2 linked regions of the Homo sapiens genome follow. The protein of the gene in region 1 purifies or fractionates together with the protein of each later gene. This does not show direct contact. Each region holds a gene or a part of one and is shown in the gene's direction. Other genes may lie near its edges.

The links. The genes of interacting proteins can lie anywhere in the genome.
Region 2: the proteins of TBPL2 (region 1) and TAF8 purify together in Homo sapiens (co-immunoprecipitation; one large-scale study listed by IntAct). This does not show direct contact.

Annotation. Positions count from the first base shown.
Region 1 is NC_000014.9:55,426,774-55,431,615, reverse strand, and holds part of TBPL2 (TATA box-binding protein-like 2), read left to right. Parts: intron 1-2,641; coding exon 2,642-2,809; intron 2,810-4,842. UniProt on the Homo sapiens protein: Transcription factor required in complex with TAF3 for the differentiation of myoblasts into myocytes. The complex replaces TFIID at specific promoters at an early stage in the differentiation process.
Region 2 is NC_000006.12:42,066,630-42,071,471, forward strand, and holds part of TAF8 (transcription initiation factor TFIID subunit 8), read left to right. Parts: intron 1-1,835; coding exon 1,836-1,978; intron 1,979-4,717; coding exon of another isoform or gene 4,718-4,839; intron 4,840-4,842. UniProt on the Homo sapiens protein: The TFIID basal transcription factor complex plays a major role in the initiation of RNA polymerase II (Pol II)-dependent transcription.

The DNA of each region.
Region 1 (4,842 bases):
TCCCAGGAATCTCCATTTTAAAGTGATTATTGGACAGTTGTGCAAGATGTCTGTAATAATGTTCATTTCAGCAATAGAACAGGGAAAACCTAATTAATAATAGGGTTTCAATTTGAAGTCATAAAGTAAAATTGTATTAGCCATATAGTACACATACTGAGCTGAAAGGATGGTCACATTGTATTAAGTTGGATTGCAGAGGGAGAAGTAAGCAGCTAAATGGTGTTTGTTATCCAACTTTCATTGTAAAATATGCTCATGTTACACATATTACACACATTCATGAGTGTCTTTTCTTATCTGAATTTATTCCTAAAATCTGATAGTGAAAGTTTGGATAATGAGTTCAGATAATAAGAGATACTTTTTATCCAAATATATTTGGTTTTGAAGTTTTGGATAGTGAGTTGTGAGAATTTAGTTAATAAGAGGTGCCAGTATTATCTCCACATTTTATCCAAACCTATTCTCTTTTGTTGTAACAGCAAGAGTATGAGGGATACCTGTGTTTGCGTAGGAAAAGTGCAGAAGATCAAATTTAGGTAGTTAACACCAGTATGGGTGAGATTTTAAGATTTTTAAACTACTTTCTAATGTTTGTACAATGAACATGTATATAGACTTTCAACTATTAGTTGTTTCAATAGAAACTTCTGTGTCCTTAGAATATCACAGCTGATATCCCAAGAAACTACAGGACTATGCAAACTTGAACAAATTTGAACTTATTTACATTACGGGAAATGTAATAGATTAGTTAGGCAAAATGTAGTTCAAAATGGAAACAGTTTATTTTACTGCTAACCTGGGGACATGGCCTTGCTAAGGACATTTCAAGAGTGAGAAGTGGGTGAAGAGAGCCAAGGGCAGTGCTGTGCAGCTGTAGTCAATCTAGTGAGTAGATACCAGATCAACAGATGGCCATGTGCAGTGGCTCACACCTGTAACCTCAGTACTTGGGGAGGCTGAGGTTGGGAGGGTCACTTGAGTCCTGGAGTTTGAGCCCAGCCTGGGCAAGACAGCAAGACCCTGTCTCTATAAAAATTTAGGCAGGTGTGGTGGTGCATGCCCCTGCAGGCTACTTAGGAGGCTGAGGCAGGAGGATCACTTAAGGCCAGAAGTTCAAGGCTGCAGTGAGCTATGATCATGCCACTGCACTCCAGCCTGGGTAACAGAGCAAAAACCCAATCTCTTTTTTTTTTTTTTTTTTTTTTTTTAAAGTGGGTGAGGAGAATCAACATTAAATGAGGTGACACATGTATGTAGTAACGAATACCCAAGAGGGGGCAGTGTTGGTGAAGGATCTGGATAAGAGAATCAAACACTTGCTTTAGTCCAGGCAAACAAGTTCAAACTGGCTTTTCTTTCAGGTGTTTCTGATTTACAGCCTAAAAATAGGGCCAAACCCATGAGGGGGGTGGAATTCACCTGATTCACCCTGCAGGTGTTGCTACCTACTGTTTTGTTTTGTCACTAACAGTTGAAAAATACCTAAGGAGAAATGAAGCCTCACCTCTCAGGACTCCACAGGCTCTGCTATGAATTTAGGGGTGCAGCAGGACAGACACTTAAAGGACATAGCCACAGAGTAGGACAAATTCCTGTCCTTCTTGTGTTGAGTTTGAATTGAATTGAAGATTGGGTGAGAAAGCCGAGCAAAACAAGGGGGGTTTTGAGGTATTTTCATGTGGTTGTTTTGGACAGTGTGTCCAATAAAGACTCAAGAACTGATACCTTGTCTGTGCCACTCAATCAGCACATATCTTACCTCCTTATATGCGATTTTTTTTTGTATGCATGTGTCCTTATTTTTTCTTGTTGTTTTCTTTTTTTTTTTTTTTTTTTTTTTGAGACGGAGTTTCACTCTTGTTGCCTAGGCTGGAGTGCAATGGCGCGATCTCAGCTCACTGCAACCTCTGCCTCCCAGGTTCAAGTGATTCTCCTGCCTCAGCCTCCTGAGTAGCTGGGATTACAGGTGCCCGCCACCATGTCCAGCTAATTTTTTTGTATTTTTAGTAGAGACAGCGTTTCATCATGTTGGCCAGGCCGGTCTCGAGCTACTGTCCTCAGGTGAGCTGCCTGCCTCAGCCTCCCAAAGTGCTGGGATTACAGGCGTGAGCCACTGTGCCCAGCCATTGTTCTCTTCTAAATGGGACATACTTTGAGACTGGATGAATGGTTCCCAAACTGCAGTGAGCAGCACAGTTACCTAGAGGGCTTGTTAAAAGACAGATTGCTCGGCCCCACCCCCAGAGTTTCTGCATGTCTGAGGTGGAACCTGGGACTTTGCATTTCTAACAAGTTCCCAGGTGAAGCTGCTGGTCTGGGGACACACTTTGCGAATCCTTGGAATCGTTTTAGCAAATAACACCCAAGTAAAAGTAAAAGTACTTCATATATGAAAGGTGACAAATGAAGACAAAAATTTATGATTCTGTTCAACAGCTGTACAATTTTACAAGACCTTTTATAAGGTGCTAGGGACGAAAGTATGGGAAGTAAGTCCTCCTCACAAAGCCTACAGCTTCATAGTATACATTGAAAGATAAACGTGGTACAAATGGTAACAATCCAATACAACACCAGTAGTTGAGAGGATGTAGCGATTAAGACATCTTTAAACATATTTGCCCCTCCCCAGTGAAGAGCAGTCTCGACTTGCAGCAAGAAAATATGCTCGTGTGGTGCAGAAGCTTGGGTTCCCTGCCAGATTCCTCGATTTTAAAATTCAGAACATGGTTGGAAGCTGTGATGTGAGATTTCCCATCAGGCTGGAAGGTTTGGTGCTAACCCATCAGCAGTTCAGTAGGTATGACGGTTATATAGCTTGAACTTTGAATTTACCAAGATATTTAAGTTACATTATGGGTTGCTTACGTAAAGTATCTTTCAGAGAAATTGTGATTAAAAAAAAAAAGGCGGGGGACACAATAGTGAAAAGATTAAGATGCTATGCCTGAGTTCTCATAGGTTACCACATGTGCCCAGTCTTTTGAAACCATGGTTCTTAAACTTACATTGCTTAGCAATCACTTAGCTTATTAAAGCACACATCTCTGGCTGGGTTTCTTCACCAGAGATTTTGCTAGAATTTGTGTTTCTAAAAAGCTCAAAGGTGATGACAGTGCTACTGGTCAGAGGCCCACACATTGAGATCCAGTAATCTACAGATTTGTAAGCATACAAACGTAGCTTGGCAATGACACTGGCAAGATAAGGCATGTGTTGGGAGGCCGAGGCAGGCGGATCACGAGGTCAGGAGATCGAGACCATCCTGGCTAACACGGTGAAACCCTGTCTCTACTAAAAATACAAAAAATTAGCCGGGCGTGGCAGCGGGCGCCTGTAGTCCCAGCTACTCGGGAGGCTGAGGCAGAAGAATGGCCAGAACCCAGGAGGTGGAGCTTGCAGTGAGCCGACCTCGCGCCACTGGACTCCAGCCTGGGCGACAGAGCGAGACTCCGTCTCAAAAAAAAAAAAAAAAAAAAAAAAAAAAGATAAGGCATGTGAAATGGACTAGGCCGGTAGGAAGGGGCTTGACAGCTGGTGAGGGGAGAATGGATTGGGGAGAAGATGAAAAAAGAATGCTGTAGCACGTTCTATGAAAGCAATCCTGGGAGGCTGAGGCAGGAGAATGGCGTGAACCCGGGAGACGGAGCTTGCAGTGAGAGATCGCGCCACTGCACTCCAGCCCGGGCCACAGCCAGACTCCGTCTCAAAAAAAAAAAAAAAAAAGCAATCCTAACTAGTTTGTCCCCTATCTGTGTGTGTGTGTGTGTGTGTATATAGCTGCAGCCCGCAACACAATGTTGCCTGTAGTATATTCCTTTTCCTAGGGAATATCTCTAGCCTTCCTGACTTCAGACTTCCCGTCTCAACAGCTAGTGCTCCTCCCCCGCCCCCAGCCGTTTTGGTGGCTCTCCCATCCCAGGCCCTCAGAGAGCAGGGATGGAGGGTGACTCATGGACACCAAACCCCTTGACTCACCAAGATATACACCTGGGCTAGGGCACTTGGCCTGGGTTAATCACAGATGCTCTTAAATTCTCTTGGCCAAGCTGGAACTGAAGTTCTTTCATTCCAACGCCTTATCTTCTCTTGGCCATCGAATGATTATCCCGTCAATAGAGTAGATAGGGATCATATTGCTGTGCTTTCCCTAACATTTGTTAGCTTTCCTTTCAGATATGATCTGAATGGAAGTTAAAAATTCCTTTTTCTTCTAAAATATTTTCATTCATTCTGAGATTCAGCTTTTATGATATGCTTATTTTTCTTTTGACATGTTTATTTTTCTCTTGATTATGTTTTCTTTTTTCTTCAGTTTTTTCACTGTATGCTATTGAATGCCTAAATATACCCCATTTTTTAAAAATCTGAGCTCCCTATAAAGTCCTCCCATTCCCCCATGTAAGACATGTTGCCTCTTTAGGTATCTTTCTTCCTTCAATCTTGGCATAATTTGCAGATTTCCTAATAAAGCCTGTTTCTAAGAGTCTCCCAGTGCTTAAGTTGTCTTATCTTCCAGACTCTCAAGTCACGAGCCTCCAGCCTATCTTTCTCTGAATCGGCTTAGTGTACATCTGCAAGAGCTCTGCCCGAACTCTAAGGTTGTGTCTACATTAGACTTAGCATTCCCTTCTGGCCATTCAGGGCTCGAAAATGATGTGTGTGGTTCTTCCCAAGTGTCCATTCATTTCTTTTTCACCAGCATCTTCCTTGCAGAGCAGATCTAAGTCTAGAATAGGTGCCCCTTGTTATTACTACCAGCTTCTGGAAGGGTTGCCAGTAAGGCGCAGTGAGAATACATCAGACGGAGTGGGCCCATCCCTGTTCTATCTT
Region 2 (4,842 bases), on another chromosome or scaffold:
CTGACGACTCCAAAACAGTAATGGTCTCTGTTGGGACTGGCTGCTTGAGGTCCATAGAGTTACCTTGAGGGTAGCCTAGGCCTAGGCATCAGAGACACTTGGTGGCAGCCCAGGTAGTAGAAGAACATTGGCATCAGGGGCCAGTTGCCCATCGTGATGTTCCCTCGTAGGTCCCACCTCATTTAACTTGGCATCTCAGCACTATTTGGCCATGTTGACCAAGCTACTTCATTTCCAAAGACCTCAGTTTTTACAAATGTGAGTGAGGGAGGTTGGTTTGGGTGATTCATTCATTCAGCAAGCTCCTGTGGAACGCCCGCTGTGTGCCTGGCTCTGGAATAACAGCAGCTGCCGGTTGTTAAGTGCCAGATACTGTGCTCATCATTTCCCATACATTATCTCATTAAATCCTCTTGTGAGCCTCTGAGTTGGGAACTGATATATCACTACCTTCATAGGAACCCTTCAATGAGGCACAAGAGAAGAGAAATGAAGTCACTTCCTCAAGGAACATGGCTAGTAGACATCATTCAAACCTAGCTCTTACTGCAGGACCCCACATCTGACCCACAGCAAAAATAATTCTGGAGTTTTTGTGGGTTTTTTTGAGACAGAGTCTTGCTTTGTCATCCAGCCTGGAATACAGTGGCGCAATCTCTGCTCACTGCAACCTCCGCCTCCCGGGTTCCAGCGATTCTTCTGCTTCAGCAAGTAGCTGGGACTACAGGCAGGAGCCACCACACCCAGCTAATTTTTTGTATTTTTAGTAGAGACGGGGTTTCACCCAGTTGGCCAGGTTGGTCTTGAACTCCTGAGCTCAAGTGATCTGCCTGCCTCAGCCTCCCAAAGTGCTGGGATTATAGGCATGAGCCACCACACCCAGCCAATTCTAGAGTATTTTCTAACAGTCACATTCTACCATAGAAGTACACACAGAGACTTTTTCTTTTTCTGTTTTGAGACAGGATCTCACTTTGTCGCCCAGTCTTGAGTACAGTGGCACAAACAGCTCACTGCAGCCTGGACCTCCTGGACTCAAATGAGTCTCCCACCTCAGCCTCCCTAGTAGCTGGGACTACAGGCATGCACTATTATACCTGGCTAATTTTATTTTTCCTAGAGACGGGATTTCACCATGTTGCCCAGGCTGGTCTCAAACTCCTGGGCTCAACCAGTCCTCCTGCCTCAGCCTCCCACAGTGCTAGGATTATGGGCATGAGCCACCACACCCGGCCTTCTTTCTTTTAATGTTATTTTTTATTCAATTTCTTCCTCTCATCCTCATTGCTTTTTGGAAGAGCTAGAACTCTCATTGACCAGAGTGTCTTACAGCTCAGTGGACATGCATATATGCAGAGTGCTCAAATCCAGCCTTTGGACTTGAGTCCTTCAGGGTAAAAGAATCAATATTCCTGCTCTGGAAGTGAAGCTTAGAGGGGTTTAACTGACCTTGGGTGCAGGATCTCAAAACTTATGTGTTGCTAGGATTCTATCTATAGCCTCATTTCCATCTTATCTCAGTTGTACTTGGCAAAAAGTAGATTCTGAAGTCATGCTGCTTGAGTTAGAATCCCATTCTGCCATTTTTAGCATGCTTGGGAAAGTCATTTCACCTCTCTGTGCCTAATCGTACTTAATAGGATGGGAGCAAGGATGAAAGATAACATGAGTAAAGCCCGTAGAACATTGCCTGGCCTGTTGTGTAAGTACTTGGAGCGAGTTAGCTAGTATTATCTTCTGGTGCTGCTCACTGATTTGTTGTGAGGCTCTAGGACTCTAAGCCAGCTGCGAGGTCTCTGTGACAGTGGACTCATGCCTCTCTTCCAATTCGCCAGTGATTGCTGCCAGACCTTTCACCATCCCCTACCTGACAGCTCTTCTTCCGTCTGAACTGGAGATGCAACAAATGGAAGAGACAGATTCCTCGGAGCAGGATGAACAGACAGACACAGAGAACCTTGCTCTTCATATCAGCATGGTGGGTTCCACCTTCTGCCTACCTCAGAGTATCCCCCAAACTGTCGCACACTGCCCTCAGTCTGTCACCCTGGGACCTGGACATGATCGACCTCAGGTCTCTTTGGCTTTCTGTTAGGGGCCTGCATAAGGGCTTGCGTGATGATCCAGATGTGACCCAATCTCCTGCTTAGAGACACATCCGTGTCCTGGGGATTCACTCGTTCATTCAACAAATACAGTTCCAGGTGCTGGGATATTAGTAGGAAGCCAAATAAACAAAATTCCCTGTCCTCATGGGGCTAATGAAAAATAATAAATGAGGAGATAGGAAGTGGGGATGGGAATGGGAGGGATGCAGTATTAGGTAGAGTGACCGAGAAGGGGGCATTTGAGTAAAGACCGGAAGGGAACAAGGCATGGACATGTCTGGGGGTGGAGCCATTCTAGGCAGCAGGGGCAGCAGATGCAAAGGCCCTGAGGCAGGAGCTCCCCTGTTGTATTGAAGAACAGCAAGGACATCAGGGTGGCCAGAGTGGAGTGAACAAGGAGGAGAACAGTAGGGGATGAGGTCCGAGAGGGCCCACGGGGAGTCAGATCTTACAGGGTCTTAAAGGTTAGATTAGACACTTTGCCATTTACTCAGTAAGGTGGACCCACTGGAGATGTTGAGCAGAGGAGGGTCAGGATCCAAGGTAGGTTTGCTAACAGGGTCAGTCAGGTTGCTGTGCTGAGGATGGGCTATAGAGGGCAGGCAGAAGCAGGGAGACCAGTTAGGATGCTGTCACAGTAAACTGAGAGATGGTAGGAGGAGCAAAAATAAGGAGATGTGGTCACCTAGATCATTTGGTCAGATTCTAGATCACTTTCAGAGCAGAGCCAGTTGATAGAGTAGATATGAGAGTTAAAGAAAACGGTAAGGTTTTTTGCCTGAACAATAGGAAAGATGGAATTGCCTTCAGCCAAGATAGGAACAACCACCGGGTAGAACAGGTGTGTGGGGGAAGTCAGGAGTTGATGTTCGTGTCTTAAACATAGATGTGTTAAGTTTGAGATGCTTGTTAGACATCAGGCGGTGATGTCAGGTGAAGAATTGGATATATAATTGGAGTTTGAGGAGCAGTTAGGGCAGGAGATGCGTATTTGGGAGCCAGCAGCCTGTAGGTCGTGTCTAAAAACATGAGCGTGGATGAGCTCTTCCAGGGATGAGTGAGGATAAGAAGAGGAGGCACATTGAGTCCTGGAGCTGTTGCTGTGTGTAGAGCTTGAAGAGATGAGGAAGAACCAGCATGGAGGTGGGAGAACTGGAAGAGGGCTGTGTCCTGGAGGCCAAGGGAAGTAAGTGTTTCAGGGAGAAAAGAGCAATTAGCTGTGTCCAAAGCTGTGGGTGGCTCCAATGGTAGGAGGACTGAGAATTCAACCATTAGATCTGGCAGTGTGGATGTCATTTGTGACCTTGATGAGAGCCATTTCAGTAAGAATGAGAGCGAAGACCTGGAGTAAATTCAGAGAGAATGGGAGGAGAGAAGAGGAGTCAGTGAGTATAGACTTGTGCTGTCCCTTATAGCAGCCACTAGCCACGTGTAGGTATTTAAATTTAAATTAATGAAATAAAACTAAAGGCCGGGCGCGGTGGCTCACGTCTGTAATCCTAGCACTTTGGGAGGCTGAGGTGGGCAGATCACGAGGTCAGGAGATCGAGACCATCCTGGCTAACATGGTGAAACCCGATCTCTACTAAAAATACAAAAAAAAAATTAGCCAGGCGTGGTGGCAGGCGCCTGTAGTCCCAGCTATTTGGGAGCCCGGGGCAGGAGAATGGCGTGAACCTGGGAGATGGAGCTTGGCGTGAGCCAAGATCGCGCCACTGCACTCCAGCCTGGGCGACACAGCAAGACTCTGTCTCAAAAGAAAAGAACTGAAAATCAGTTCCTTAACCTCACTAGCCACATTCATTTCAAGTGTCTGATAGCCACATACGGCCAGTGGCTGCTCTACTAGGCAGTGCAAATATTGAACATTTCCATTGGCACAGAAAGTCGTGTGGTGTTCCTGCAGTACAGGGAGGGAGAGTGATGCAGTGGTAACTAAAAGGGGGAAAATGAAGGAATTAAGAGAGGTGTTTCGTGTTTTTATTTTTTAAGATAAAAGAAATAACGTGTTTGTATGCTGTTGGGAATGATCTAGTCAAAAGGGAAAATGGATACAGGAGAGAAAGAAAAGTCTGGGAATGATGTCATTTGGTAGACGAGAGGGGATGGGCCCGTGACCAAATGGAGGGACTAGCCTTCTTCTGGACATTTCATACCCAGGATAGGAGACAACATGTGGGTTCAGAGACAAAGGTGGGCAAGGAGGTGTTCTAGTCCTAGTTTGTTTTAGGGTATACTTTCTTTTCTGCTCACCGGTGTGTCATACTCAGCGAGTGAAAGGATAAGAGCCCCCTCTTGTTCCTGCACCCTTGGAGAAAGTGCCAAGTACAATCGCAGAACCGCCAGAAGCTGGAATGCCCTTAAGGCTAATAGGGTTATATAGTCAGGTTGCCATATTCAACCATCCTTTAAAATCAGCACTAGTTTGGATGCCTTAGTGGCTGTAGTTGGACTGAGCATCCCTTATGTTCTCTAAGATGTGATACCCCAAATGGCAGCCAGCCACCCTGGGTTGCTAGTGGAATATGCCTGTGTCATCTCTATTTGCTGAAGGTCTTATTTGCCTGGACATACTTTTTTTTTTTTTTTTTTTTTTTTTTTTTTTTTAGATAGAGTCTCGCTCCGTCACCCAGGCTGGAGTGCAGTGGCAAGATCTTGGCTCACTGCAACCTCCGCCTCCTGGGTTCAAGCGATTCTCCAGCCTCAGCCTCCTGAGTAGCTGGAATTACAGGTA